Linked DNA regions of Homo sapiens: regions 1, 2, 4 and 5 are each linked to region 3. Evidence: fine-mapped expression QTL. A gene starts in region 3. Each other region holds a variant in brackets. All regions are shown on one strand. Distances are between the middles of the regions.

The links. PIP is the estimated chance that this variant, and not a neighbour inherited with it, causes the effect.
Region 1: its variant is the best candidate, but not a certain one, in a credible set for the expression of SEC31B in tibial artery (GTEx, PIP 0.63).
Region 2: its variant is the best candidate, but not a certain one, in a credible set for the expression of SEC31B in blood mononuclear cells (TOPMed, PIP 0.63).
Region 4: its variant is the best candidate, but not a certain one, in a credible set for the expression of SEC31B in blood mononuclear cells (TOPMed, PIP 0.67).
Region 5: its variant is the best candidate, but not a certain one, in a credible set for the expression of SEC31B in whole blood (TOPMed, PIP 0.77).

What each region holds. Positions count from the first base shown.
Region 1 is chr10:100,475,088-100,480,087 of GRCh38, reverse strand. WNT8B (Wnt family member 8B) reads right to left here. Exons shown (of 6, transcript NM_003393.4): 2 at 1,003-1,036; 3 at 76-214. Among named protein-coding and RNA genes, the nearest start is that of WNT8B, 15 kb to the right of the region's middle. The variant T/C (reference allele first, on the strand shown) is at 2,646.
Region 2 is chr10:100,482,354-100,488,309 of GRCh38, reverse strand. WNT8B (Wnt family member 8B) reads right to left here. Exons shown (of 6, transcript NM_003393.4): 6 at 4,566-5,956. The coding sequence ends at 5,494. It overlaps SEC31B (SEC31 homolog B, COPII component), which reads left to right. Exons shown (of 26, transcript NM_015490.4): 25 at 212-283; 26 at 515-1,663. The coding sequence ends at 694. Among named protein-coding and RNA genes, the nearest start is that of WNT8B, 22 kb to the right of the region's middle. RefSeq lists enhancers at 1,798-2,573, 1,733-3,225, 2,574-3,350, 5,371-5,956. The variant G/A (reference allele first, on the strand shown) is at 3,156.
Region 3 is chr10:100,516,727-100,522,909 of GRCh38, reverse strand. It overlaps SEC31B (SEC31 homolog B, COPII component), which reads left to right and starts at 3,049. Exons shown (of 26, transcript NM_015490.4): 1 at 3,049-3,128; 2 at 5,913-6,036. The coding sequence starts at 5,958.
Region 4 is chr10:100,408,212-100,414,394 of GRCh38, reverse strand. No RefSeq gene overlaps it. Among named protein-coding and RNA genes, the nearest start is that of OLMALINC, 38 kb to the right of the region's middle. The variant C/T (reference allele first, on the strand shown) is at 2,673.
Region 5 is chr10:100,489,755-100,495,937 of GRCh38, reverse strand. It overlaps SEC31B (SEC31 homolog B, COPII component), which reads left to right. Exons shown (of 26, transcript NM_015490.4): 19 at 392-553; 20 at 5,055-5,232; 21 at 5,616-5,930; 22 at 6,177-6,183. Among named protein-coding and RNA genes, the nearest start is that of SEC31B, 27 kb to the left of the region's middle. The variant C/TC (reference allele first, on the strand shown) is at 3,730.

The sequences.
Region 1 (5,000 bases), 42 kb after region 3:
GAGGCAAGGGGCTATCCCTGGGGCTCTAACCTGTGACCAGAGGGTCCAGGGAGCTGTGGCTGAGGTTTTTCTTACCACTGCGAAGCCCACCATGGCTGGACAGCTGCAGGGCTCTCTCAGGGCAGTTCCAGCGGTCCCAGGCAAACTGATACTTGCATTCTTCAATACCACTCTGGGCACCAGCTGCCACACTGCTGGAGTAAATCAGGTAAGCCTGTAGGGACATAGGGGTAAAAATTCAGACTGAACTTAGGAGGCATTTACCCTAAACTGACCAAACAGCCCTCTTCCTGCTCACTCTCCCATCCCTCCAAAATAATGGAGTAAGCCTTTAAATATGCTGTCTCATTTGACATCACAAATAACTTGTGAAATAGGCACTATATTATAGATTAGGAAACTGAGGCCCAGGGAGTGAGCTAAAGTAATTTCCCCAAAGTCCCAGAGCTAGCAAATGGCAGAACTAGAAATGAAACTCAGTTTTATCAGACTCTAGTCCCTATTATCCTTTATTCACCTTTCTTCACTATACTATCCTGTCTCTCCAAAATGAGCCCAAATCACCTAATTCATGAAATTTAAGGAGTTCTCATCACATGACCATCTTAGAAAACAACATTTTGGAACTGAAAATGCCCATGAATGTAAAGATCATGTAGTACAATTCCAGCATTTTAAACATGGGAAACTGCATCCCACCACGGGGCACTGAGAAGGATGTGTGACTTTGCAGCCTGACACCTATAAAAGGCTGTTGACTTTTATGGCTCTGGAAATTCTAGCCATAAATTCAGTGCTCCTGCGTTCTTATCTTGGCGCTGACAGTGGTTTGCTATGTGGTTTTAGATGTGTCCCTAACACCCTCTGGGTCTCAATCTTTCTATCTGTAATGTATACAGCATAATAAAATATGTGGATATAATGAAAAATCTGCATTTATCATCTTTAGTCAACAGGCTAAGATTAGTGAAATCCATATCAATTAATGGAATTTGTTCTTACCTTTGGACCAGTCATCAGGAAATTGTTCACCGACCTATAAGGGAAAAAAAAAACAAAAACAGAATATAATGCAGAGACACCAACTTGTTTCTGCTTCCAAGAGTGGTAAGAATTACTTCAGCACATGTCATTAATAGGAAGAAAGGGAAACTAGTTTTACCCAGGAAACACTGTGCATAACAAACCTACTAAAGATGATTTACAGCCAGGTGGGGTGGCTCATGCCTGTATTCCCAGCACTTTGGGAGGCTGAAGCAGGTGGATCACTTGAGGTCGGGAGTTTGAGACCAGCATGGCCAAACATAGTGAAACCCCGTCTCTGCTAAAAATACAAAAATTAGCGGGGCATGGTGGCAGGCGCCTGTAGTCCCAGCTACTCAGGAGGCTGAGGCATGAGAATCACTTGAACCTGGGAGGTGGAGGTTGCAGTGAGCCGAGATTGCGCCACTGCACTCCAGCCTGGGCGGCAGAGCAAAATTCTGTTTCAAAACAAAAAAAAAAAAACACACACACACATAAAACTTAGTAGAAAAAACATGAATAAAAGTAGTATCATTTCCTTGCATTGTTAAAGCCAGGTAAAATTTCCAGTACCATATACCTGATAGTGATGGTTGCTGATTATTCTGCCATGAAGTGGGGGAGAGAACTAGCATTAACTCCTGACTATGTTCCTTATGCTCTACTCTCGGTATTTTACATGTTGATCTTGTTAAATCCTTACTGTCTCAGGCATTATTATCTCTATTTTGCAGACAGGAAATCTGAGACTCCAGAAAAGTTAAACGTGTGTTCAGGCTCACCCAGCTAATAAGTGAGTGAAGCAGGATTTGAATCCACATTCATCTGACTCCGTGGGACGTTAGAAGGATACTTCTCTAATTAGGAAGAGGTAAACAAACAGTGGAATATCTCTCTAGGGATTGAGTCATAATAAAACTCTAAAAATAAGTAATGCGATTTGGAAAAATGGTTTGGCTGCCCCTTTTAAAACTAAAAATGGGCTGGGCACAGTGGCTCACGCCCATAATCCCAGCACTTTGGGAGGCTGAGGCAGGTGGATCACCTGAATCCAGGAGTTCAAGACCAGCCTAGGCATCATCATGGCAAAACCCCGTCTCTACTAAAAAAAAAAAAAAAAAATAGCTAGGCATGGTGGTATGCGCCTGTAATGCCAGCTACTCAGGTGGCTGAGGCACAAGAATCGCTTGAACCTGGGAGGCAGAGGCTGCAATGAGCTGAGATTGCACCACTGCACTCCAGCCTGAGCAACAGAGTGATATTCTGTCCCAAAAAAAAAACAAAAAAAAACTAAAAATGAACTTGTCATATGACTTAGCAATTGCACTCTTGGGCATTTATCCCAGAGAAATAAAGACTTACTTTCACTCAGAAATTTGTACCTGGATGCTCATAGCCACTTTATTAATAATAGTCAAAAATTGGAAACTACCCAATGTCCTTCAAAGGGTAGTTTAAAAAACTGTGGCCGGGTGCGGTGGCTCACGCCTGTAATCCTAGCACTTTGGGAGGCCAAGGCAGGCAGATCATGAGGTCAGGAGATCGAGACCATCCTGGCTAACATGGTGAAACCCTGTCTCTACTAAAAATACAAAAAATTAGCCAGGCGTGGTGGTGGGCAC[T/C]TGTAGTTCCAGCTACTCAGGAGGCTAAGGCAGGAGAATGGCGTGAACCTGGGAATGGAGCTTGCAGTGAGCCAAGATCGCGCCACTGCACTCCAGCCTGGGTAACAGACCGAGACTCCAACTCAAAAATAAAATAAAATAAATAAATAAATGAATAAAAAATAAAAAACTGTGGTACATTCATACCATGGAATATTACTCAGCAATAAAAAGGAATGATACGTTGATACATGCAACAACTTGGATGAACCTCAAGGAAGTTACGGAGTGATTAAAGTCAGTCTCAGAAGGATACATACTGCATGATTCTATTTACATAACAATAGTGAAATAATAAAAATTATATAATTATAGAGCTGGAGGACAGATCAGTGGTTGCCAAGGATTTGGGATGGGGGATGGATGTGGCTGTAAAGAGTAACATGAGAAAGTCTTGGGGGAATGGCCAAATGTCTTTACTGTGGTTATACAAGGCTACACATGACAAAATTGCATAAAGCCACATACATGAGTACATGTACACACAAGTGCATGTAAAAATGGTGAAGTCTGAATAAGCTTCATGGATATCGTACTAACGTTGTAAGATGTTCACACTGGGGGAGGTTGGGGCAAGTGTACATGGGACTTCCCTGTACGTTTCTTCCCTGTACATGTCTTGCAACTCCATAATTATCTAAAAATAAAAAGTTAAATATATATGTACATATACACATGATCTGCAGGGCTAAAGACTTGGAGAATGACTTCAGTATAGGCATTTGAAAATCAGAATCTATTATCTATTATCTTTGTTTTTCCATTATAATGTGAGAAAGTAATACGGGAATCATTATGTATTGTTCCATGCTGGTGTACCCCTGCAATTCTGAAGGCCAATAAGATGCTGAACATCACCAGAAAGGGGATTGGAAATGAAATAGACCAAGAAAGTTTCTTGTCAGGCCAAAAGAGCTTGGCTGACTTTCTTCATAAAAAACACATACAACACCAAAAATGTGAGTAGTTTTTGAAAACCAGTATTAACAAACTAAGAGGCTGCCATATGAGATGAAAAAGATTCTAAACGAGTTGTAATAGAATTTTAGAAAATCAAAAATACTATGAAGTCTATCAAAACTAAGGCCTATTTTTTTTTTTAGACGGAGTCTCACTCTGTCACCCAAGCTAGAGTGGTGCCATCTCGGCTTACTGCAACCTCTGCCTCCCAGGTTCACACCATTCTCCTGCCTCAGCCTCCCGAGTAGCTGGGACTACAGGCACCTGCCACCATGCCCAGCTAATTTTTTTTTGATTTTTTTTTTTTTGTATTTTTAGTAGAGATGGGGTTTCACTGTGTTTGCCAGGATGGTCTCGATCTCCTGACCTCGTGATCTGCCCTCCTCGGCCTCCCAAAGTGCTGGGATTACAGGCGTGAGCCACCGCGCCCAGCCACCAAGGCCTACTTTTTAAAGCTTGGTAGGCAACCTTAATTCAACTGAAAAGAAGCACTGCTTGATCAGGTGTAGTAGCACCAGCAAAACACAAAAATACAATTCAGAATGACTTAAATGAATTCACAATTTCCAAAGCCATTATAGGTTTGGACATGAATTTCTGATCCTTAAAGACATGTCAGAGGAGTCAGCCAGGCCCCTTTGCTTTGGGGAAAGGGGCCTGAGCTTGTTCCCACTCAGAAAGGCACTTTTTATGTTAGGAATAACATTCAAAGATTTTGGACATTACCAAGCCTGACAGAGCTAGTTCCCATTTTCCATAAGACAGAAATTATCAGGAAAGAAAACAAAACAACAAAGCAAATTGAGTGACAAAGAAAATGCTTTGCCATAGCTGGGGTGAAGAGTCTTCCTGTGAAAGGAGTCTAAGCCGGAACTACAGGGAGTAATAGACAGAGATTCTAGAGAATTCTTTCCTGGAAGATCCTACAATATGCAAAGATTTGTATGATATCCAGGTCAAGCCCAACTGATCAATGAATGAGACTTAATTGAGCACCTGTCATGGAACAACACTATAGGCCTTATTTGGACAACATTCCTATAAAGTGACTTGTGTTTTTGTTTTTTTTGTTGTTTGTTTTGTTTTGTTTTTGGAGACAGAGTCTCACTGTATCTTGCTCAGGCTTGAGTACAGTGGTGTGATGTCGGCTCACTGCAGACTCCACCTCCCGGGACTTGTGTTTTTCTGTTTGTTTGTTTTTTGAGACGGAGTCTTGCTCTGTCTTGCCCAGATTGGAGTGCAGTGGCATGATCTCGGCTCACTGCAGCCTCCGCCTCCCGAGTTCAAGCAATTCTCCTGTCTCAGCCTCCTGAGTAGCTGGGATTACAGGCGTGTGCCACCACACCCAGCTAATTT
Region 2 (5,956 bases), 34 kb after region 3:
TTTTTTGTATTTTTAATGGAGACGGGGTTTCACCGTGTCAGCCAGGATGGTCTCCATCTCCTGACCTCATGATCCACCCGCCTTGGCCTCCCAAGGTGCTGGGATTACAGGCGTGAGCCACCATGCCCGGCCTAATATGCTGTGATTCTTTATGGCCCTGTGTGGTGTTAGACTTAGGGGCTGGGGTTGGAATCCATTTCTTTCCCTGCAGAAGACAAAAAGGAAGCTGGAAGAGGCAGCCCAGCGTCTGGAGTATCTATATGAGAAGCTCTGTGAGGGGACAGTAAGTACAGCTAGCTGTGCTCCCACTGCCTCCTACACTTCCACCATCACCATGGCCAAAGGAAGCCCAGTGTCTTTTCTTCCCATAGGTGTCACTGACCTGGGTTCCCCACAAAATACGTGCATCTTGCCTGGACTGGGCCCCAGAACTTAAGTCTTCCCTTATCCCTTCCATGCTGCCAGGGTAGGAGCTGGGTTGGGCTCACTAACCTAAGGGTCATTCCCTCCACAGCTCTCACCTCATGTCGTGGCTGGGCTCCATGAGGTTGCCCGATGTGTGGATGCAGGAAGCTTTGAGCAGGGCCTTGCAGTGCATGCCCAGGTGGCGGGCTGTAGCAGCTTCAGCGAGGTGTCCAGCTTCATGCCTATCCTGAAGGCTGTCCTCATCATCGCTCATAAGCTGCTGGTCTAAACCAGGCAGCCTCTCTTGCTAGGAGGCCACTTCTGCTGTTACATAACTCCTCCCTGCAGAAGAGGGGACTTCTGCAACAGATTCTGTTTCTTTTTCCCGACTCTTTTCCTTGCTGCCAGGTATGTGATGCTGTAGGCTTGGCTCCAAACCAGCTGAGTGCCTGCTTTTTACTCCTTTATGTCTGGCCTTCTAGGATCTGTCCAAGACACTCTCAGGCCTGGAGGCAGGGCATAGAATCAGTTCTTCACTCTCCCTAATACTACACTCTGTAAGGACCTGGGGCAGGATATCTTCTCCCCCAGGGATCTTCTATTTAAGTGGCTTCTGAGAGGGTGAACAGGATTGTTACTTTTAAGCCTACCTCTGCTGTGACCCATCATGTGGGTCTTTTGTTTCTCCCTTCTGTGGTTTATGAGCCTGCCCTTACCTTTTCCCTGCCTCTGACTTGGTATTTCCAGGTCCGTATTTCTCTGTAGCCCAGGGTCTGGGGTAGAGCTGACTGCTGTTCACCCTTTGAACAACTCATGGACGTGAGGGATGGGTGCTGAGCAGAACCAAGAGAGGAAACTTTGGCGCTGTTAAAATGGAATTTCTCATCTGCCGGCATTATTAAGGGTGGGCTAGGTTGGATGGAAGGTGAAAGGGATGAACTGCCTTTTGCTGGAAGCTGTCTTAGGCTGTGAGACAGGAGCAGGGGAACCACAGCCTATGGGGAACTGCCCTTGACTCCACCTATGTTGGAGCCTTAGCCCAAGGCCATTCCTTCTGTGATGATAAAGCCCAGTTCTGGAATTGGAGCCATATTAAGGAATGATTCTCTTCCAGCGCTGCTCCTCAAGGGTTGGGGGTCCTTCTCCCTCGCAGCCACCACATGTCTCAGGGCTACCTTCTCCGATTGGATTTGCATTTGTGGCACTGTCTTTGATGCAGTGATGTACTTAATGGTGCAATAAAGCTGCTTCGATTTGGTTTCCTCTGTCATCTCCCAGTCATTGCCTCCTCTGGGTTCTATTTTGCCATTACCTTTCTAGTCCTCTTTATTCTTGCTTCCTGCACCCTAGTAAGGCAGGGGAGAGGCTTAGGGAGAGATAAATCAAGAAAGTTAAAGGAAGGTGTCCATTCCCACTGAATTAGGTTCTCTCCTTGCAGCATTTGTGGTCACTCTGCTGGGTGTGTTGAGGGTGGGGGGATTGTCTCCCTTCATCCGTGCCTGGTGTTCAGTTCCAGGGTTTTCCCTACCCCACTTCAGGGCTGAGCTCAGCTATACAAAGGGACTGGGTGTGAAGCCAGGGGATGCTAGCCCTAATCCTGTTGTAGATCCCATCATGTCTGCGGGCTAGATGTGTGTGTGTTTGGGAGGGAGGGATTGTTAGGCAGTATTTGTTTGTAAAGCCACTTGCTCTTCAGATAATACTTGCACTAACTTCTATTGATGAAGCAGTGTGAGCCCTAGCAAAGTCCTTTCCCAAAGTGTCTTTGAAGCCAAGAGCCCATTGAAGGGAAGAAAGGCCGGGAGAGGGGATTAGTTTGTTCAGCAGCTGTGAATTTCAGTGGGAGGTTGATGAACTCCGAAGTCTTTGTTTAAATTAAAGTGGGGGAGAAAAAAGCCGCTGCTGGAGCGAGAGCCCCACTTGGGGCCCTGAACTAACACAAGGAGAAGTCTGAGCTGCAGGGAGCTGTGTACTGACTGCGAAGACTTTTCCCAAACACTTTCGGAAAAGGTGTTGTGAGAAGACAAGGGGGCGGAGTGGCGGATTAGCATGTGAAATGAAGTTTTCATTGACTCCAGTGGGGGTAGAAGGCTATTTTAATGGCATTTTGTTCTCCTATTTTCTCTTCTTGAGCTCTTTAGAGATATTGTTTTGCTAAGACAGGCTTTCTTCCCCCTTCTTTCCAGTCTGAGGATTGCCTCTATGGGAGCCAACATAAATATTTCTCCTCCAGGAATGCGGGTTAATTAAAAGGAAATGAATGAGTGGAAGCATCCAATCCAGACCTACAATAGGCGAGTGCCCTGGCCTGCCCTCCCCTCCCACCACCGCCAGCACCACCAGCGCCGAAGACGACCCCGTCTCTGTCTTTGCCCTAACCTGCTGCTAAGGCCAGTTGAGGCTGCGATTCTTTTCAAAAAGAAAAAGCTCTGCCTGTGTTTAGGCTCACAGGCCAGGGACAGGAAGGAGACAGTGTTTTGCCCACCCCAACCAATGTCCTTGTCACTTCTCAGGGCCTCCCTCTGTTTCTGTCTTCTGGCTGAGACAGATGGGCTCCTGAAGAGCACACAAGAGGTGGAAGGGGCCTGTGCTCTGCACTCTCCCCACAGTAACTTACTAGTTGGGGGAAGAAGCCAGTCATCTTTCTCAGCATCAGTTTAAATCTGTAACACAAAAGGTTTGACTGGCTGACCTCAAAGATGTCTTCCCAAGCACCAGTTCTGGAGTTGTCTACTTTGTAAAGGGACCAC[G/A]GCCCTGGCAATTGAGTGTAAGATGAGAACTTAAACTCCGTGATGCAGCAATGGTGGTTGTTCACCACTATCTCTACTCTGGTGTTTGTTGAATGAACAAATGAACAAGTGGATATTGCAAAAGGAAGGGAAAAGCAATACAGATCCAAGGCATCTCAGTCATGTTTTCTTGGTAGAACTGGAATGAATCTGGTATCCATTTGGGGGTATAAAACAATAACCTATGAAATAATGTTCTGGCGGCATGACGTATTTAGAGTGCTGACCTGGAGTTACCAAATATGAAGCACAATAGTTCTGCTTTTATGCTAAGAGACCTGGAGAATGTAGCTTTACTTTACAACATTGTGCTTTTAAATTTTCTAGCTGCCTTGCCAAACTTTCTTCGTGTACATTATAAAGTAATTCTGCAAAGTGGGACAGGTAGGTTAGTATATGCTGCTTCTTGATTAAGGAGAAAAGGTGAGTTGGGAGATTCAGGAGGTTCAGATAAAAGCAGAGGGAAGGCGTGAAGGGCCTTTTGCTGAGAAAGCTGGAAATGAAGCACTAAGAACACCTGAAAGGAAGTGTATCCCCGGTCAGGAAGGGGAAACTCTCTCCTCAGTAAGTGTTGGTAAGACCAGAAGGTGTGTGGGTGAGGCCAAGGGTTTGGGATCTGACCTGGCCATTGCCTTAGTTTGGAATACGGGAACCCTTGACTCTTACAGGTGAACCCCTAGAGTCTTGGCTTTTGTTGCCTGGAGCCAGCCACACTGCTTTTCCTACTCTGGGAGAGGAAGGTTGAGGTCGTCTAGCATCTGACCAGTTCTGCTCTAGAAGAGCTGCCCAGCCCCAGACCTGGGACTGTCCTAGGGCAAGGAAGCTGGCTGGGAAGCCCCTTGGGCTACAGAGGGTCTGTCAGGGATTGGTTCTTCCCTCCCCAAGGTCTTGCTCTGTTTCATAAACAAGTCCCTGCTGTACTCTCTGAGAATAAAACCAGAAGACTCAAGTACCACAAGCAGCAAGCTCATGGCTCTTGAGTGAATGTATTAGAAGATTTAAATAGATGATTTACTAATCCTTGGCAGCTTAGCCTCAATCCAGATAACTGCTTGGGCCACCAGGGAAGTGAGGCTTTAGGGAGGATGGTATCCTGCCAAGATGGGAGGGAGGAGAGAGCCTACAGGTTGTATCTGTTACCACAGCCCACCCGAATATCCTCAAGAATAAGTGCAGTACCTAGAAAAAGAGCACATATCACAATGACTGCAATAAATTAAGGTTCAAGGTGCTGAACTTCCTACTAAGCAACAGTTTCATTGCAGGAAGTTTACTCATTGAAGGAAGATATCCAGTGCTCTGAATCCTGCCTGTTTGAGAACCAGGTTAGTGAGAAGGAAGGGTCTCAGTTTCTCCTTCTTAGGACCTGCCTCTAGAGGTGCAGACCAGGATCTGAAGAGGAAAGTGGCTTTATTTACCTCAGTCTTGGCTCAGAGGAACAAAGATCCTTTGGAGAAGAAGAGGTAAAGTTGGTTGCTAGGAGGAAGTAGGTCAGGAGAAGGGAGAAGTTACCTTTAAAGGGTAGGAAATGACTGTAATCTGCCCTTAACGTATTTCCTAGACCTTCGGGGTATGTATCTGGAGTCCCTCGGGTTATTGTCTAGGAAAGTCATTGCCCCACTAGTAAAGTCCATTCATGATATGATACCATAGGGATGAGTAGCACCCTTGGTGTTCAAGTTAGCACTCCAGAGCTCCCTCTTCCATCTTCAACCTCTGCCTCTAGGAACCAACCCCAAAGACATGCTTTTCCGGGGCCAGTTTCCTCAGTTTTTCTGGGAAAGGAAAGGGAGAAGAGGAGAGAAAGCATTCAAGATTCCTGGGGAATCTGGCTCAGCAGGTAGCAGGGGAGGAGCTGTGCAGAAGAGAGGTGCAGCAGTGGGTGAGCCCTGGTAGCAGACAGTGGGCAAAAGGGCAAAGCTTTGACTTTACCTGGGTCCTGCGTGTCTGAGAAGGGTTCTTCCAGCGCCTAAGGCTTGATAGGCTAGGTCAGACATTAGGGCTGCTAGGAGAGGGGAGGAGGAACACCTGTTCTCCTAATCCAAGGAAGATCAGTAACTCAAAGCCTGAGTTCTCAGACCTAGGTGTGGCTGCGAGGATTCAGACAGAGCTCTAGGAGAGCACAGAGGAATTGGGGAAACAGGCTGGAAAGTGGCAAGCTTTGGAGAAATTGCAGTCTCTCCCTCTCAGGATCCCTAGGTCTGGGAGAGCGGGTTCCCCATTCCCTAGGTTCCACAATTACCGGGGTCTCTAAAGGAAGCCAAGAACCAGTGGGAAAAGGAGGGGGCAGAGGAAACCCTTAGGGTTTTCTCCCGGGTTTGTGCGCAGCGCCCCCCCGCGGCCGCTCTGCGCGGCTACAGAAGTACTTGGTGACCCTCCGGCGGCACTGCTCGCAGCGGACTGCGCAGCACCAGTGGAACTTGCAGTTGCAGCTGGACACGGTCTCGGCCCGGCGCTCCTCCACCGCCAGCCCGCAGTCCCCGCAGAGCCGGCGGCAGCTGCGGCGTTCCCAGCGACCCAGGGCCCGCCCGCGCCTTAGGCACTCTCGGCCTTCGGTGCCCAGCAGCCCTAGCGTTTTGTTCTCCAGGCAGTAGTCCGGGGAGTCCTCCAGGTGCACCAGCTCCCGGGTAGAGATGGAGCGAAAGGTGTCGGCGATGGCGCCGCGGCCGGCCGCGCTGTTGCCAGCACCCTGCAGCAGGTCCACCTTGAGTGCTGCGTGGTACTTCTCCTTCAGGTGCGCGCCCACCTCGCGGAACTCGGGC
Region 3 (6,183 bases):
AGATGGTGGCACTGCACTCCAGCCTGGGCGACAGAGCCAGACCGTCTCAAAACAAAAAAAAACAAAAAAAACTCCTTAATAATAGTGGTTACTTGGAAAAAAATGTGCTCTAACGTGTTTCAAGTATATTACAGGACTGATAAGTGTTTTTGTCCTGTCTGCCTAAGGCTGCGACTGCCTCTGATCTTATTTCCGTTATAAGAATATTCCTTATTCCAAAGCAGCTTCTGAATCATAGCTTCTTAATAAGTTGACATTACCTGTATTTATGAATTGGAGGACAGTCAGTGAGTTACTACTGAACATGTTCATAGCTTTGATTACTTTTGATGACTCATCCACACTCCTATAACAGTCTTAGAGAAAAACTATGTTTTTGAGAGTCTATCATTCATCTGTTTTTTGTTTTATTTAGAGATAGGATCTTCCTCTGTTCCCCAGGTGGAAGTGCAGTAGCACAATCATAGCTCTCTGTAGCCTCAAACCCCTGGGCTCAAGGGATCCTCCTTACTCAACCTCCCTAGTAGCTAGGATTACTGGGATGTACGAACCTAAGTTTCTTATTTTTTGTTGAGGTGGGATCTTGCTATGTTGCCCAGGCTGGCTCAAACTCCTGGCCTCAAGCAATCCTGCCTCAGCTTCCTAAAGCACTGGGAATACAGGCAGGAGCCACTGTACCCAGCCCTCATGTCTATTTTTAAGTGAACCAACCCATATTCCTTTGGGGACATATTCTTAAGTTACAGTATATTGCCGGAAAACCTGTCCCATAGAAAAGCATACATTTTATGTGACCAAAAGAAGCAAGTTCATTCAAATTAGATGTGGAGTCTTAGTTGTGCAGGCAGTGAGAGACCTTTTGTGAGGTCAGGGAGTGGATACTTGTGGAATGCTATTCTTTGAAGGTCCCCACTGGCTTTTTATCTGTCTTCATTCTCTATAGCATTTGATAATCATTTCCTTAACAAACACCTGTGTGTCTAATATGTATCAAACACTGATAAGCCCTGGAGATATAAAACTGAGCAAGACAAAGTAATCACCTTCAAATATTACATAGGAGACCAGCAGTTATAATACAAAGTGAAAATAATTCTTTATCATTATTACTATTGAGACAGGGTCTCACGCTGTTGCCCAGGCTGCAGTGTAGTGGTGTGATCACAGCTCACTGCAGCCTCTACCTCCCAGGCCCAAGCGGTCCTCTCACTGTAGCCTCCCAAGCAGCTGGGACCACAGGGATGCACCAACACACCTGGCTAATTTTTGTATTTTTTGTAGAGACAGGGTTTCACCATGTTGCCCAGGCTGGTCTTAAACTTGTGGGCTCAAGCAATCCACCTGCCTTGGTCTCCCAAAGTGTTGGGATTATGGGTGTGGGCCACTATGCCAGGCCAAAAAGAATTTTTTTTTTTTTTTTTTGAGACATGGTCTCACTCTGTCACCCAGGCTGGAGTGCAGTGGCATGATCTCAGCTCACTGCAACCTCTGCCTCCCAGGTTCAAGTGATTCTCATGCCTCAGCCTCCCGAGTAGCTGGGATTACAGGCACATGCCACCACGCCCAGCCAATTTTTTCGGTATTTTTTGGTAGAGATGTAGTTTCACCATATTGGTCAGGCTGGTCTTGAACTCCTGACCTCGAGTGATCTGCCCGCCTCAGCCTCCCAAAGTGCTAGGATTACAGGCATGAGCCACTGCTCCCAGCAAGAATTCTTAAGAGGTGTGAGTTGAGAAAGTGCACTTTTAATTTGGCTTAATCATGTCCTACCCGAAACTGTGACTTAAGCTTCTGGTTCAAATTTCTTTAGGAGTATTCCATCAGTAACTCTTCTGCCTCCTTCTCTCAGGTTTAGTTTTTAACCCTGTTTACTTTTCCTCAGGCTTCATTCCCTGTTGTGCCAGCTAAGAAGTTCAGGAAATACTTGAGTACTTAGTAGGTAGGAAGCGTGGGCTAGGCACAGATAATGCACTGAATTACCTTCTGTCTAACTTCAAAATTGCCAGATCCACATGGAAGGGAACTGGAGTCGTGTCACAATGAGTTGGGCTCCATCATGATAACTGGCCCCCCATCTTTGGAGGTGTATCAGGCAGGAATACAGAGAATTCATGCGTTAAGCATAAGTTTCTAAGATTTAAAGCTGCCTACAGAATTTTTTTTTTTTTTTTGAGATGGAGTCTCTGTCACCCAGGCTGGAGTGCAGTGGCGTGATCTCAGCTCACTGCAACCTCCACCTCCCGGGTTCAAGCTATTCTCATGCCTCAGCCTCGTGAGTAGCTGGGACTACAGGCCTGCACCACCATGCCCGGCTAATTTTTATATTTTTGGTAGCGACGGAGTTTCACCATGTTGGCCAGGCTGGTCTCGAACTCCTGACCTTTGGTGATATGCCCACCTTGGCCTCCCAAAGTGCTGGGATTACAGGTGTGAGCCACTGCACCCGACCTGTCTACAGAACATTTTTATTTGGAAGTGGCACAATTTCTTCAACATAAAAAATACATTATCGGCTGGAATATCACCTGTGTTCTTGCAGCTCCAGAGGATAACACCCCTCCTATGTTCCTCAAATATTTCAGGAAGCCCCTGGCCCTGTAGTCTCACCCTCCATACACTTATAGCCCTTAATTCAACCAAGTTTTGGGCACCAGTTTCTGCTGGGCTGCAGTGCAACACTCACTGCCATTTACAGCCTCGATTGCTTTTTACGTTTTCAACTAAATGGATTCCACTGAGGGCTCCTGGGGCCAGGGCCGGGTCTTCTCCCGCTTCAATACATAGATAATGAGTTAGTATTTTCCCTTTTCAGAGACTGGCCCTAGAGCCTGGCTCAAACTGAATAGACCAGAACTTACTGGTCCAGATCTGACCCGCTGCGCAATCACAGGGTAGGTGAGGGAGGCCCGGTTAAAAGCTATAATCCTGTTTGGAAACGTTCTCCGTGGGTCTGTCAGTGTCTCGGGCTCGGCGCCCGCGGAGCGTGTTTCCGACGGTGCCCTGCCGGGGTCCGCGCCGCTTTGGTCCTCCGCAGCCGCCGTCCACAGCGCCCGGCTCCGCGCGAGAGCCCTGCCAGAGGAGCGGCTCCGGCCGCCGCGCCTGACCCTTGTCCGGGGTCTTCCGCACAGGTTGGTTCGCCCCGCCGGTCTGGGGTCCCTGGTAGCAGAGATTGCGCTGGGGACCCGGAGCACTGCTCCTTTCTCGGCAGAGCGCGGAGGGGAGCCCGCTTGCTGCGGAGCCCCCGGCCCGCGCCTGCCCTGCCCGCGGGTCCGGGCCTCGGGGGCCTCCACTACGTCTACCCTTGAATTGGATCCGGCTCTACTGTCCCTGCCGCACGGGAACCCCCAGCCGGATGAGGGTCTCCCTGTTCACTGCTGCCTTGCGCCTTCCCATCCGCCTTGGTCCTGACCTGGCCCAGCCGAGGCCGTCCGGTGTCGCTGCGTTTGGGCTGGGCGGGAAGGTCTGTCATTGCTGACCCTGGCGCGCCGCGCTTCGGCGACAGCGGGAAAGAGGCTGTGCTGACCGTCCTCCCTAGGGACTGGACTGCCAAGGGTAGCTGGTGCCCTCCTGCACGGCAGGTCTGTCGAGCATTTCATTGGTCATCTCCCCCTCACGCCCCCATGGCCAATCTGACCCCAGCGGGGGCCCTTTTTTTGTGAATAGATGCCTCTTAACAATGTGAATTAAGAGCCCATTTTCCCAGTTCCTAGACTGTCAGCGATTAAAACACTTTCTAGGGTTTACTTGCGACTAGTACAGTGGTTAGAAATACGGGCTCTTGATGCTGATGGGGGTTCACATCCCGGCCTAGCCAGTTGTCATCTCTAGAAAATGGGGATAATCATAGTACTTACCTGATAAGACCACTGAGAGAATTAACTGAGATATGCACATCAAATGCACAGCTGCTTATCGCAGCTCCTATTTTTGTTGTTAGGGAATCTTTTCCCAGAAACATTAAAATGGCTGTGACCAGCAGGTGGCACTGGTGACTGTATAGTAGAGTGTTGAGCTGGTCACAGAATACGTGATAGTAGCCACAAGTGTTTAAAGGTGCTTTGGAAATCTTGGCTTAATGGGCAGGCTTAAACTTTCTTCACGCTAGAAAGTACCTTAGAGATTAAGTAATACTATCTCCTGTTTTTGTAGGTGAGACTGATCTGACTATAGCTTACTCAAGCAGGTCACAGTAGGTCCCAAGCTTTCTCCTCAAGTTCAGTGTAATTTTTAAAAATCATTTCTACCTGTTTGCTAGCCTGTTGGGATGGGACCTTGAATATACATTGGAATTAGATCAGAAACCACAGAGTTAAAATGGATGTCCACATTCGAGCTTTTACCATATGCCAGACATTCGTTTGGAAACTAGTTACAACATGGTGAACAAAAGCCGACACAGTGTCAGCTCTCATGGAGCTTGCATATTAGTGGAAGAGACTGACAATGTCAATATAAATAAATATGTAATTATAAATTACTAGGAAGAAAAAAACTGAGGCTTTTTGTGATTGGGTAGTTCACTTATTTGGGGAAGTAAGCTGAGCCCAGAAAGATATAAGGAGCCAGTCATGTCGAAAGTGAAGGGAAGAGCATTCAAAGTATAGGGAACAGCATTTGTAAAGGCTCTAAGGAAGGAAAATGTCAGGAAATTAAAGGCTAGTGTGGCTGAAGCACAATGAATGAGAAAAGTATTAAAAGATGAAGTTGAAGTGGTAGGCTGGAGCCTTTGGGCAGGGCTCAAAGAAGTTTGAATTTTATTCTGTGTGTGATAGAAATCATTGAAAGATTTTAAGCATGGAATGCCAAAATCATTTTTTATTTTAGAAGTTCACTCCTGCTGCTGTGTAAAGAACGAATTGGGTAATGGCTTGAGTAGAAAGGGGATAGCTAGTTGGGAGGTTGTTGGAGTACTCCAGGTGAGAGATGATACAATCAAAAAGGCTGTTGGCAGCGAAAATAGAGAAAAGTAGACAGATTGAGATATATTTTGGAGGTTAAATCAAGGAGACTAAATGATGGATTAGAAGAGAATGAGGGAGAAGGAGGGATCAAGAGGGATTTTCAGGCTTCTGGGTTGAGCAATTGGGTGGATAGTGGAACCATTTACCAAGATGAAAAAAACTGGAGGAAGAACAGAAGAGATTGTGACTTTGCTCCTTTCTGAAAAAAACAAATAAAAAAAGACCATAAAAGATGGTAGAATAGAGAACTCCATTTTAGACAGACTAAAATGGGAGTTCCCTCCCCCATTAAGTATCTACTATATCCAAGTGAAATATTTGATTGGAAATTGCGTATAAGCAGCTGATCACTTGAGGTCAGGAGTTCGAGACCAGCCTGGCCAACACGGTAAAACTACGTCTCTACTAAAAATACAAAAATTAGCCAGGCATGGTGGCACATGCCTGTTATCCCAGCCACTCGGGAGGCTGAGGCAGGAGAATCACTTGAACCCAGGAGGCAGGGGTTGCAGTGAGCTGAGATCGTGTCACTGCACTCCAGCCTGGGTGACAGAGCAAGACTTGGTCTAAAAAACGAAAAGAAATTGCATATAAGAACTTGGAGCTTAGAGGAGAGATTTGTGATGGTGATATAAATTTGGGGATCATCAGCATATGGGTGCTATTTAAAGCCAAGGAAATGGACAAACATCACTGAGAGATTGTCTGGTTTGATGGTTATCACCACTGGACCTGTGGTAGCCATTGTGGTTGAGTATCATTTGAGGTTTAAAGCATTACATTTCAGTAATTGGGTGAATGAACTATCTTTAGATCTGCAGATGGTCATGTATTTGTCACTCTGTGTTGCCCTGAAATGCCCTATCTTGTGATGGAGAAAGACAAACAAGAACTCTTGTCCGCAGATGCTCCCTGGATCTGGCTGTTAAGTTTGCTGGTTTCTATTTTCAGTGGGCTGAGGGCCATGTCAGTTTTCTGCCACCTACAGGATAGACCATGAAGCTGAAGGAACTTGAGCGGCCAGCTGTCCAGGCATGGAGCCCAGCCAGCCAATACCCTTTGTATCTGGCCACAGGTATGGTGACACTGTGAATTAGGATCCACTGGGAGTACATAAGTTGAGGGGAAACTTAGTATCTAGAATTATTTATTGAACATCAGAGAAAGCTCTCAGATCATAGAAAGATAGGGTGGCTCACAGCATAAGCAAGGAGATATTAGG
Region 4 (6,183 bases), 110 kb after region 3:
AAGAAAGCAAATTAGTTTATAGACCCAGAGTCCAGGACTTTTGCTTTTTTCTTTCTTGCTTTTGTTTTTAAAAAATGTTTTATGGGCTGGGTGCGGTGGCTCACACCTATAATCCCAGCAGTTTGGGAGGCCGAGGCAGGAGGATCATGAGATCAAGAGATTGAGACCATCCTGGCCAATGTGGTGAAACCTCATCTCTACTAAAAATAAAAAAATAGCTGGGCGTGGTGGCGTGTGCCTGTAGTCCCAGGTACTCGAGAGGCTGAGACAGGAGAATCGCTTGAACCTGGGAGGCAGAGGTTGCAGTGAGCCGAGATCACGCCACTGCACTCCATCCTGGGCAACAAAAGCAAGACTCTATCTCAAAAAAAAAAAAAAAGTTTTATGTATTTAGAGATGGGTTCTCTCTATGTTGCCCAGGCTGGTCTTGAATTCCTGTGCTCAAGTGATCCTCCTGCCTCAGTCCTTCAAAGTGCTGGTATTATAGGTGTGACCTACCATGCCTGGCCAGGACTTTTGCTTTCTTCCCATTTCTTTTTTTGTTTTGTTTTGGTTTGTTTTGCTTTTTTGAGATGGAGTTTACTCATCGCCTAGGCTGGGGTGCAATGGCACGATCTCACTGTAACCTCTGCCTCCTGGGTTCAAGTGATTCTCATACCTCAGCCTCCCGAGTAGCTGGGGTTACAGGCACGTGCCACCACGCCCCAAAAAAGAATTTTTTTTGTATTTTTAGTAGAGACAGGGTTTCACCATGTTGTCCAGGCTGGTCTTGAACTCCTGACCTCAGGTCTTTTCTTCCCTGCCTTTTCTTCCCATTTCTAAGAGGGTCCCACCATGTGCTCTTAAGCAAGTTCTGTAGCTTCTTCATGACTCTTTTTTTCTCAATCGTTTACCACACAGAGCTGACACTTCTCTTACTATCCAAAGGAAATGGCTATCTGCATAAACTGAATAACGAAGGAAAAGTACAAAATGTCATGTGAATATGTTTTATTCATGAGAAACAGTATGAAAGCTGTGTACAGTGAAGAAAGAACTATTGGTCACAGAGGGTATTTTTTTCCAGCCACACCCACATACTGACAACAATCTCAGCCAGTTGTGCCCTATCTGATTACAAAGAGGTAACACAAAAAATTCTGGCTGCGCAGAGTCCTACTTCATATAAAAGGGACAATTTTGGAGGCAAAACTCATGGGTAGCAGAGCTCAAGGACAGTCACAAAGACAAGGGTCACTTCCAGTTCTAAGATTCCAGGATTTTAGTTTTTTGAGTTTGGGAGACAGGATGCTCAGCTGAGCAGGAGAAGCATCCTGCCTTCATCAGTTAGTGTTAAAATTGTGGCACAGCTCAGTCTGCCTGAGGTTTATTTTGATACCTTATCTTCATCTGGGTTTAAATCAGTTGTGGTCACATAGATTGCAAATATAGGATTTTTAGGCCGGACGCAGTGGCTCATGTCTGTAATCCCAACACTTTGAGAGGTTGAGGCGGGCGGATCACTTGAGGTCAGGAGTTTGAGACCAGCCTGGCCAACATAGTGAAACCCTGTCTCTACTAAAAATACAAACAAACCTGGCATGGTGGCAGGTGCCTGTAATCCCAGCTACTCAGGAGGCTGAGGCATGAGAGTCACTTGAACCCAGGAGGCGGAGGTTGCAGTAAGCCGAGGTTGCACCACTGCACTCCAGCCTGGGCGACAGAGCGAGATGGTCTGAAAAAAAACAAGTATAGGATTTTTAAAAGTGCATTAGCTTTGTTTGGATGAATACAAAAGGTTGGAAAGTATGCCTTTTACTGACGTCACAAAAAGCTTGACCAATATATTTTCCTTTTATTGAATTATTCATTTAATTACCAGGCTGGGGAGAAAGAAATAGAGATTTCTTTATTATTATTATTATTATTATACTTTAAGTTCTAGGGTACATGTGCATAACATGCAGGTTTGTTACATATGTATACATGTGCCATGTTGGTGTGCTGCACCCATTAACTCGTCATTTACATTAGGTATTTCTCCTAATGCTATCCCTCCCCCCTCCCCCCACCCCACAACAGGCCCGGGTGTGTGATGTTCCCTTTCCTGTGTCCATGTGTTCTCATTGTTCAATTCCCACCTATGAGTGAGAACATGTGGTGTTTGGTTTTTTGTCCTTGCAATAGTTTGCTGAGAATAACGGTTTCCAGCTTCATCCATGTCCCTACAAAGGACATGAACTCATGATTTTTTATGGCTGCATAATATTCCATGGTGTATATGTGCCACATTTTCTTAGTCCAATCTATCATTGTTGGACATTTGGGTTGGTTCCAAGTCTTTGCTATTGTGAATAGTGCTGCAATAAACATACGTGTGCGTGTGTCTTTATAGCAGCATGATTTATAATCCTTTGGGTATATACCCAGTAATGGGATGGCTGAGTCGAATGGCATTTCTAGTTCTAGATCCCTGAGGAATTGCCACACTGACTTCCACAATGGTTGAACTAGTTTACAGTCCCACCAACAGTGTAGAAGTGTTCCTATTTCTCCACATCCTCTCCAGCACCTGTTGTTTCCTGACTTTTTAATGATCACCATTCTAACTGGTGTGAGATGGTATCTCATTGTGGTTTTGATTTGCATTTCTCTGATGGCCAGTGATGATGAGCATTTTGTCATGTGTCTTT[C/T]GGCTGTGTAAATGTCTTCTTTTGAGAAGTGTCTGTTCATATCCTTCGCCCACTTGTTGATGGGGTTTTTTGTTTTTTTCTTGTAAATTTGTTTGAGTTCATTGTAGATTCTGGATATTAGCCCTTTGTCACATGAGTAGATTGCAAAAATTTTCTCCCATTCTGTAGGTTGCCTGTTCACTCTGATGGTAGTTTCTTTTGGTGTGCAGAAGCTCTTGAGTTTAATTAGATCCCATTTGTCAATTTTGGCTTTTGTTGCCATTGCTTTTGGTGTTTTAGACATGAAGTCCTTGCCCATGCCTTTTTCCTAAATAGTATTGCCTAGGTTTTCTTCTAGGGTTTTTATGGTTTTAGGTCTAACATTTAAGTCTTTAATCCATCTTCAATTAATTTTTGTATAAGATGTAAGGAAAGGATCCAGTTTCAGCTTTCTACATATGGCTAGCCAGTTTTCCCAGCACCATTTATTAAATAGGGAATCCTTTCCCCATTTCTTGTTTTTGTCAGGTTTGTCAAAGATCACATGGTTATAGATATGTGGCATTATTGCTGAGGGCTCTGTTCTGTTCCATTGATCTGTATCTCTGTTTTGGTACCAGTACCATGCTGTTTTGGTACCAGTACCATGCTGTTTTGGTTACTGTAGCCTTGTAGTATAGTTTGAAGTCAGGTAGCATGATGCCTCCAGCTTTGTGCTTTTGGCTTAGGATTGACTTGGTAATCCGGCCCCTTTTTTGGTTCCATATGAACTTTAAAGTAGTTTTTTCCAATTCTGTGAAGAAAGTCATGGTAGCTTGATGGGGATGGCATTGAATCTATAAGTTACCTTGGGCAGTATGGCCATTTTCACAATATTGATTCTTCCTACTCATGAGCATGGAATTTTCTTCCATTTGTTTGTATCCTCTTTTATGTCATTGAGCAGTGGTTTGTAGTTCTCCTTGAAGAGGTCCTTCACTTCCCTTGTAAGTTGGGTTCCTAGGTATTTTATTCTCTTTGAAGCAGTTGTGAATGGGAGTTCACTCATGATTTGGCTCTCTGTTTGTCTGTTATTGGCGTATAGGAATGCTTGTGATTTTCGCACATTGATTTTGTATCCTGAGACTTTGCTGAAGTTGCCTATCAGCTTAAGGAGATTTTGGGCTGAGACAATGGGGTTTTCTAGATATACAATCATGTCATCTGCAAACAGGGACAATTTGACTTCCTCTTTTCCTAATTGAATACCCTTTATTTCCTTCTCCTGCCTGATTGCCCTGGCCAGAACTTCCAACACTATGTTGACTAGGAGTGGTGAGAGAGGGCATCCCTGTCTTGTGCCAGATTTCAAAAGGAATGCTTCCAGTTTTTCTCCATTCAGTATGATATTGGCTGTGGGTTTGTCATAGATAGCTCTTATTATTTTGAGATACGTCCCATCAATACCTAATTTATTGAGAGTTTTTAGCATGAAGCGTTGTTGAATTTTGTCAAAGGTCTTCTGCATCTATTGAGATAATCATGTAGTTTTTGTCGTTGGTTCTGTTTATATGATGGATTATATTTATTGATTTGCGTATCTTGAACCAGCCTTGCATCCCAGGGATGAAGCCCACTTGATCATGGTGGATAAGCTTTTTGATGTGCTGCTGGATTTGGTTTGCCAGTATTTTGTTGAGGATTTTTGCATCGATGTTCATCAGGGATATTGGTCTAAAATTCTCTTTTTTTGTTGTGTCTCTGCCAGGCTTTGGTATCAGGATGATGCTGGCCTCATAAAATGAGTTAGGGAGGATTCCCTCTTTTTCTATTGATTGGAATAGTTTCAGAAGGAATGGTACCAGCTCCTCCTTGTATCTCTGGTAGAATTTGGCTGTGAATCCATCTGGTCCTGGACTCTTTTTGGTTGGTAAGTTATTAATTATTGCCTCAATTTCAGAGCCTGTTATTGGTCTATTCAGAGATTCAACTTCTTCCTGGTTTAGTCTTGGGAGGGTGTATGTGTCGAGGAATTTATCCATTTCTTCTAGATTTTCTAGTTTATTTGCATAGAGGTGTTTATAGTATTCTCTGATGGTAGTTTGTATTTCTGTGGGATCGGTGGTGATATCCCCTCTATCATTTTTTTATTGCGTCTATTTGATTCTTCTCTCTTTTCTTCTTTATTAGTCTTGCTAGTGGTCTATCAATTTTGTTGATCTTTTCAAAAAACCAGCTCCTGGACTCATTGATTTTTTGAAGGGTTTTTTGTGTCTCTATTTCCTTCAGTTCTGCTCTGATCTTAGTTATTTGTTGCCTTCTGCCAGCTTTTGAATGTGTTTGCTCTTGCTTCTCTAGTTCTTTTAATTGTGATGTTAGGGTGTCAATTTTAGATCTTTCCTGCTTTCTCTTGTGGGCATTTAGTGCTATAAATTTCCCTCTACACACTGCTTTGAATGTGTCCCAGAGATTCTGGTATGTTGTGTCTTTGTTCTCATTGGTTTCAAATAACATCTTTATTTCTGCCTTCATTTTGTTATATACCCAGTAGTCATTCAGGAGCAGGTTGTTCAGTTTCCATGTACTTGAGCGGTTTTGAGTGAGTTTCTTAATCCTGAGTTCTAGTTTGATTGCACTGTGGTCTGAGAGACAGTTTGTTATAATTTCTGTTCTTTTACATTTGCTGAGGAGTGCTTTACTTCCAACTATGTGGTCAGTTTTGGAATAGGTGTGGTGTGGTGCTGAAAAGAATGTATATTCTGTTGATTTGGGGTGGAGAGTTCTGTAGATGTCTATTAGGTATGCTTGGTGCAGAGCTGAGTTCAATTCCTGGATATCCTTGTTAACTTTCTGTCTCGTTGATCTGTCTAATGTTGACAGTGGGGTGTTAAAGTCTCCCATTATTATTGTGTGGGAGTCTAAGTCTCTTTGTAGGTCTCTAAGGACTTGCTTTATGAATCTGGGTGCTCCTGTGTTGGGTGCATATATGTTTAGGATAGTTAGCTCTTCTTGTTGAATTGATCCCTTTACCATTATGTAATGGCCTTCTTTGTCTCTTTTGATCTTTGTTGGTTTAAAGTCTGCTTTGTCAGAGACTGGGATTGCAACCCCTGCCTTTTTTTGTTTTCCATTTGCTTGGTAGATCTTCCTCCATCCCTTTATTTTGAGCCTATGTGTGTCTCTGCACGTGAGATGGGTTTCCTGAATACAGCACACTGATGAGTCTTGACTCTTTATTCAATTTGCCAGTCTGTGTCTTTTAATTGGGGCATTTAGCCCATTTACATTTAAGGTTAATATTATTATGTGTGAATTTGATCCTGTCATTATGATGTTAGCTGGTTATTTTGCTCGTTAGTTGATGCAGTTTCTTCCTAGCCTCAATGGTCTTTACCATTTGACATGTTTTTGCAGTGGCTGGTACCGGTTGTTCCTTTCCATGTTTAGTGCTTCATTCAGGAGCTCTTTTAGGGCAGGCCTGGTGGTGACAAAATCTCTCAGCATTTGCTTGTCTGTAAAGGATTTTATTTCTCCTTCACTTATGAAGCTTAGT
Region 5 (6,183 bases), 27 kb after region 3:
ATTCTAAGCAGAAAGAATAGCAAGGAGGGAGGCATGCAAGTGTTTGGCAGGGATTCAGGAACCTTGAGTCATCTCTAAGGGGGCTAGAGTATAGAGCGGGGGTGTCCAAGGGTCAGAATACAGTCGTGGGTGCTTAGTTTCTGTTTCTGGTTGGGCCAGTAAAGCCCCTTCCTCATCCCGGTTTTCCACTTATCACTAGAGACAAACCAAAAACCATGGCTTCAGGCTGCTAAAAACCTAAAACAAAACAAAACAGAACAGAACAACAACAACAACAAAATAACACAGGTTGGACAAGCTTGGTGTAGAGGGTCAGCTGAAATTTGACTGCTACCTGGGGCCTTGATTGTTTTAATTTCTTGACACAGCTCTTCCTCATTAAAACTTATAGCCACCAGTTCAGCAGCTAAGAGATCGGCTTTTTCATGCTCAAGGTTCTGCTGTCTTGGGCCAACAGTCTCCCCCTTTCCCCTTCCCCCGGATTGTTGTGGGAGCTACCCTCCACTCTAAAGAGACATCATCTTACAGATTGGGATCCCAGCCTTCTCACCAGGTAAGACCTCGTTTGTTCATTCATTTGTTCATTCAATAATACGTGCCAAGCATGGTTCTGGGCACTTGGAATATATTGTGAACAAAACTGATGAAAATTCCCAACTTCCATAGAACATAGATTCAGTTCTTTTTATAATAAATAACTGTTTATTGAACTACTAGGCTCTTAGGACATAAAGGTGCAAAAATTGTGATACTTGCCCTCAAGTAGCTCATAGTGTAGTCGAAAGATAGATATGTAAAAAATAGCTACAGTAGGCCTGGCGTGGTGGCTCACGCCTGTAATCCCAGCACTTTGGGAGGCCAAAGCGGGCAGATCATGAGGTTTGGAGTTCGAGACCATCCTAGCCAACATGGTGAAACCCCATCTCTACTGAAAATACAAAATAATGATCTGGGCATGGTGGCACGTGCCTGTAGTCCCAGCTACTCGGGAGGCTGAGGCAGGAGTATCACTTGAACCTGGGAGGTGGAGGTTGAAGTGAGCCCAGATCATACCACTGCACTCCAGCCTGGCAACGGAGCGAGACTCCGTCTCAAAAAAAAAAAAAAAAAAATAGCTACAGTAAAATTCATAAATACCATGATTGGGGTATGGCAAGGGGCTATAAGATCACACAGATGAAAGTAGTTTACTCTGTATGGTGAGGTTGTGGGGGCAGTCCAGGGAGTGTTTCAGAACAAGTCGGATGTTTGATCAGAGTTTCAAAGATTAAAAGGTTTTAGGCAAAGGGATGAGCAAGTGAAGACTGTTTCAGGCACAGAGAATAGCATGTACAAAGGCACTGAAGCAAGAGTAAGCCGAAGCCTTTTGAGAATTACTATTATTTAATTGGGGCTGCAACACAGGTGTTTGTGGCTGTGAAGTTAGATGAAGCTGGAACAACAGGTAGGAGTTAGATCACTAAGGACCTAGCATTCTGTGCTAAAGAACTTAAACTTGACAGGGAGGAGCTATTGAACAGTTTTAGGAAGAGTGACATAATTAGCTGTATGTTAGGAAGGGCCAGGCTGGAGGGAGTTAGGCTATAGTAAGGGATGATGAAGACATGAAATAACTAAAGCTAGCCAGTGAGGTTGGATTTGAAATACTTAGTACTTAGTAGATAGAACTGACAGAATTGCTGATAGTTTGGAGAGGTGTGTGTGTGGTTGGGGGTACTGAGGGAGAGGAAAGAGGTTCTGGCCAAAGTGCCCGGGGGGATTGGATACTGTTAAGATGTGAGGCCAGAAGCTTGCTAGAGCTGCCGGAGAACAGAATCCAGGGAGATTTGGATACAGTTACCAGGCAGAAGCTCTGATGGCTCATCTTGTCCCACCTTCAATCCCCACCCTAATTCCTTTTCTTTTTTTCCCTCCCTTTCCTCCCTCCCTTTCTTCCCTCCCTTGTCTCCCCTTTTCCCCTTCCCCTCCTCTCCTCTCTCTCTCCCTCTCCCCGTCTCTTTTCATTTAAAAATAACCATAGATTCACAGGAGGTGGCAAAGAAATGTACTGGGATGTCTCCTGCATCCCAACAACACCCCGCCCCGTGTCGGCATCTCACACAACCACAGTACGCTATCAAAACCAAGAAATTGCCATTAGTACAATCCATGGATTCAGATTTCAGATTCAGTCTCCACCAGTTTTACATATTGTTAGGTGTGTGTTTATGTGTGTTTATGCAGTTTTGTCACATTGTGGTGTGTAACCACCACCAAAATCAAGATACTCAATTTTACCATCACCACAAGACTCTCTTGTGTTACCTCTTTTATAGCTGCACTTATTCTGCCTCCCTCATCCTTGGCTTCACCAATATGTTCTCCAGCTCTATCATTGTTATTTAACGATTGTTACTTAAATAGAATCATGGCAATATGTATCCTTTTGAGATTGGCTTTTCTCCCTTAGCATAACTTCTTTGAGGTTCATTCAAGTTGTTCTGTGTACCAGTAGTTCACTCATTCTTATTGCAGAGTAGTATTCCATGGTGTGAATGTACCATGGTTTTAATTTTTTTTTTTTTTGAGATGGAGTCTTGCTTTGTTGCCCAGGCTGGAGTGCAGTGGCGCGATCTTGGCTCACTGCAAGCTCTGCCTCCCAGGTTCACGCCATTCTCCTGCCTCAGCCTCCCGAGTAGCTTGTACTACAGGCGCCCGCCACCACGCCCGGATAATTTTTTGTATTTTTAGTGGAGATGGGGTTTCACCATGTTAGCCAGGATGGTCTTGATCTCCCGACCTCGTGATCCGCCCGCCTCGGCCTCCCAAAGCGCTGGGATTATAGGCATGAGCCACCGCGCCCGGCCCCAGTTTTAATTTTTTTAGCCATTCAAACTTTGAAGGACATTCGGATAGTTTCCAATTTGGGGTATTATGAGTAAAGCTGCTATGAGTATTCAAATACAAGTTCCTAACTGACATCTTTACTAGGTTCAGTCTTTCAGTCCATGAATGTGGCATGTTTCTCCATCAGCGTTTTATAATTTTTGTCACACCAATCCTGTACATATTTTGTCCAATTCATACTTAAGTATTTAATTTTTTATATCACCTGTCAGCTCATGCCTACTAAGTATTTAATTTTTTTCTTCAGCAGTTTAAAATCAAATTTCTTGGTTTCCACTTGTTCATTGTGAGTATATAGAAATGCAGTTGATTTTTATGTGTTGATCTGGTTATATCCTGTGACTTTCCTGAATAGTTATAGAAGTTTTTTGTGGATTCCATGGGGTTTTCTAATAGACAGTCATGCTGTCTACAAATCTGCAAATAGATAGTTTTCTTTCTTTTCAATCTATATGCATTTAATTTCTTTCTTATGCCTTATTGTAGTGACTAGGACTTCCAGTCTCTGTTAAATAAGAATAGTGAACATAAGCCAGGCGCTGTGGCTCATACCTGTAATCCCAGCACTTTGGGAAACTGAGGTGGGTGGATCACCTAAGGTCAGGAGTTGAGACCAGCCTGGCCAACATGGTGAGACCCCATCTCTACTAAAAATATAAAATTAACCGGGCATGGTGGCGCATGCCTGTAATCCCAGCTACTCAGGAGGCAAGGCTGGAGAGTCGCTTGAACCCGGGAGGTGGAGGTTGCAGTGAGCTGAGATTGTGCCATTGCACTCCAGCCTGGGCACCAAGAGCGAAACTCTGTCTCAAAAAAAATAAATAAATAGTGAACATGAATGTT[C/TC]TTGCCTTGTTTCCAGTCTTAGAGGAAAAACATTCAATATTTCAGCATTAAGCATGATGTTAGCTTTAGGTTTTTCACAGATGCTCTTTATGAGACCAAGGACATTTCCCTCTATTCCTTGTGTCTTAATCCATTTTGTGCCACTATAACAGAATACCACAGACTGGGAAATTTATAAAGAACAGAAATTTATTTCTTATGGTTCTGGAGTCCAAGATCAAGGCACCAGCAGGTATGGTTCCAGCAGGTACGGTTCCACCCTCTAGTTGCAAGATGGTGCCTTGCTGCTGTGTTCTCACATGGCAGATAGCAGATGTGCAAGAGAAAGCAAACCCACTCCTGCAAGTCATTTTTGTAGTGGCATTAATCCATTAATGAGGGCAGAGCCCTCATGACCTAAACACTTACAAAAAGTCCCACTTTCCCAACACTGTTGCATTGAGGATTCAGTTTTCAACACATGACTTTGGGGAGCATATTCAGACCATAACACCTTGTGTACTAGATCATGAATCGGTGTTGAATTTTGTCAAATGTTTTTTCTGCATCATTTCTGTCATCATGTTATTTTCATTCTTTAGTTTGTTGGTATAGGGGATTAAATTGATTGGTTTTTAAATATCTTGGATCAGCTTTGTATGACCTGGAATCAATCCCACTTTCTTGTGGAATATTATTTTTTATATACATTATTTGATTTGCTAAAATTTTGTTGAGGATTTTTGTGTCTAAGTTCATGAGAAATATTGATGTGTAGTTTTATTTTCTGCTATCTTTTTCTGTTGCTGGCATCAGGGTAATACTGGCCTCATGAAATTAGTTAGGAAGTGTTCCTTCTATTTTCTGGAAGAGATTACATAAACTTTGCATTAATTCTTTGACTGGTGAAATTCTCCAGTGAAACCATCTAGGCCTGGAGATTTCTTTTTTGGGAGCTTTTAAATTACAAACTCAATTTCTTTAATGGTTATAGGACTATCCAGATCTTCTTTCATTGTGACTGAGTTTTGGTAGTTTATGGTTCTTGAGGAATGGGTCCATTTCTGATAAGTTGTCAGATTTATGAATGTAAAGTTTTCTGTAGTATTCGTTTATATTTTTAATGGCTTCAGGGTCTGTTGTAATAGTCCCTGTTTCATCTCTGATGATGATTTATATCTTCTTGCTTTTTATCTTTATCAGTTTTTAGATGTTTATCAATTTTATTGATTTTTTTCCTCAAAGAACTAGTTTTTGTTTCATTAATTTTCCCTATTATTTTTCTGTTTTCTATTATTTACCTTTCTCTTTCCTTTCCAAGAGCTGATGTTTTTTTCTCTTCATAGGTCCCAACTCCATCTCCAAGGCCAAGGGTTTTCACCCCTCAGTCATCACCAGCGATGCCCTTGGCACCTTCCCATCCTAGCCCTTATCAGGGTCCCAGGACACAGAATATAAGTGACTACAGGGCACCTGGGCCCCAGGCCATCCAGCCTTTGCCTTTGAGCCCTGGGGTAAGGCCTGGTGAGTGAGTCACTGAAGATCTATCTGGGCAGAGCACAGAGGTCTCAGGAAAGCAATTGGCATGGCCAGCATGGATTTGGGAAGCTGTATGTCTGTCTAGTGAGAGGAGCTTGGAAGTTGAAGTCTGAATTCCTAATGCTATCACTGGCTTCGTACCTTTGGCAATATACCAAAGTGTTGTGTTGCTTATTTCAATGCTATGGGATTGTTTTGAAGGTCAAATAAGGAATATAGTTAAAAGTATTTTGTAAATTATAGATTTCCATATACATGTATTAATCATTTATTATTTTTTTATTGCAATCCTGTTTCTCCCTGATATGCTCTGAGTTGCTCCTGAAATGAAGTTTAGTGACAAATGACCTATTTCTGTTCTGCTTCAGCTTCATCTCAGCCACAGCTATTAGGAGGGCAAAGGGTGCAAGTTCCTAACCCGGTGGGATTCCCTGGGACATGGCCTCTTCCTGGTTCCCCTCTACCCATGGCATGCCCAGGCATCATGCGACCTGGCTCTACCTCCCTGCCTGAGACTCCTAGACTGTTCCCTCTGCTTCCTCTGAGACCACTAGGTCCCGGCCGCATGGTCTCCCACACCCCAGCCCCTCCTGCAAGCTTCCCTGTGCCATACCTTCCAGGGGACCCAGGTGCCCCATGCTCTAGTGTCCTCCCAACCACTGGCATCTTGACTCCTCACCCAGGTCAGTCTTCCTTCCATGGATCCCTCTTCTGGGTTATTGCCTCCCCTGCTCCTCTCACTACTTTGGGAGTCTTTCCTCAAGTCAGAGGGCTAGGGCCCTGTTGGGTGGAGGGTGGCTGGGAGTGTAGATGGTCTGCAGAGGGAGGTATGGTGAACTCCAACTCAAAGAATGCTTCCAGCCTTCAGATAAAAAACTTCCAGTGTTTTTCACTATGCGCCGAAAAACCTCTATCTTTTTATTCTATAGGACCTCA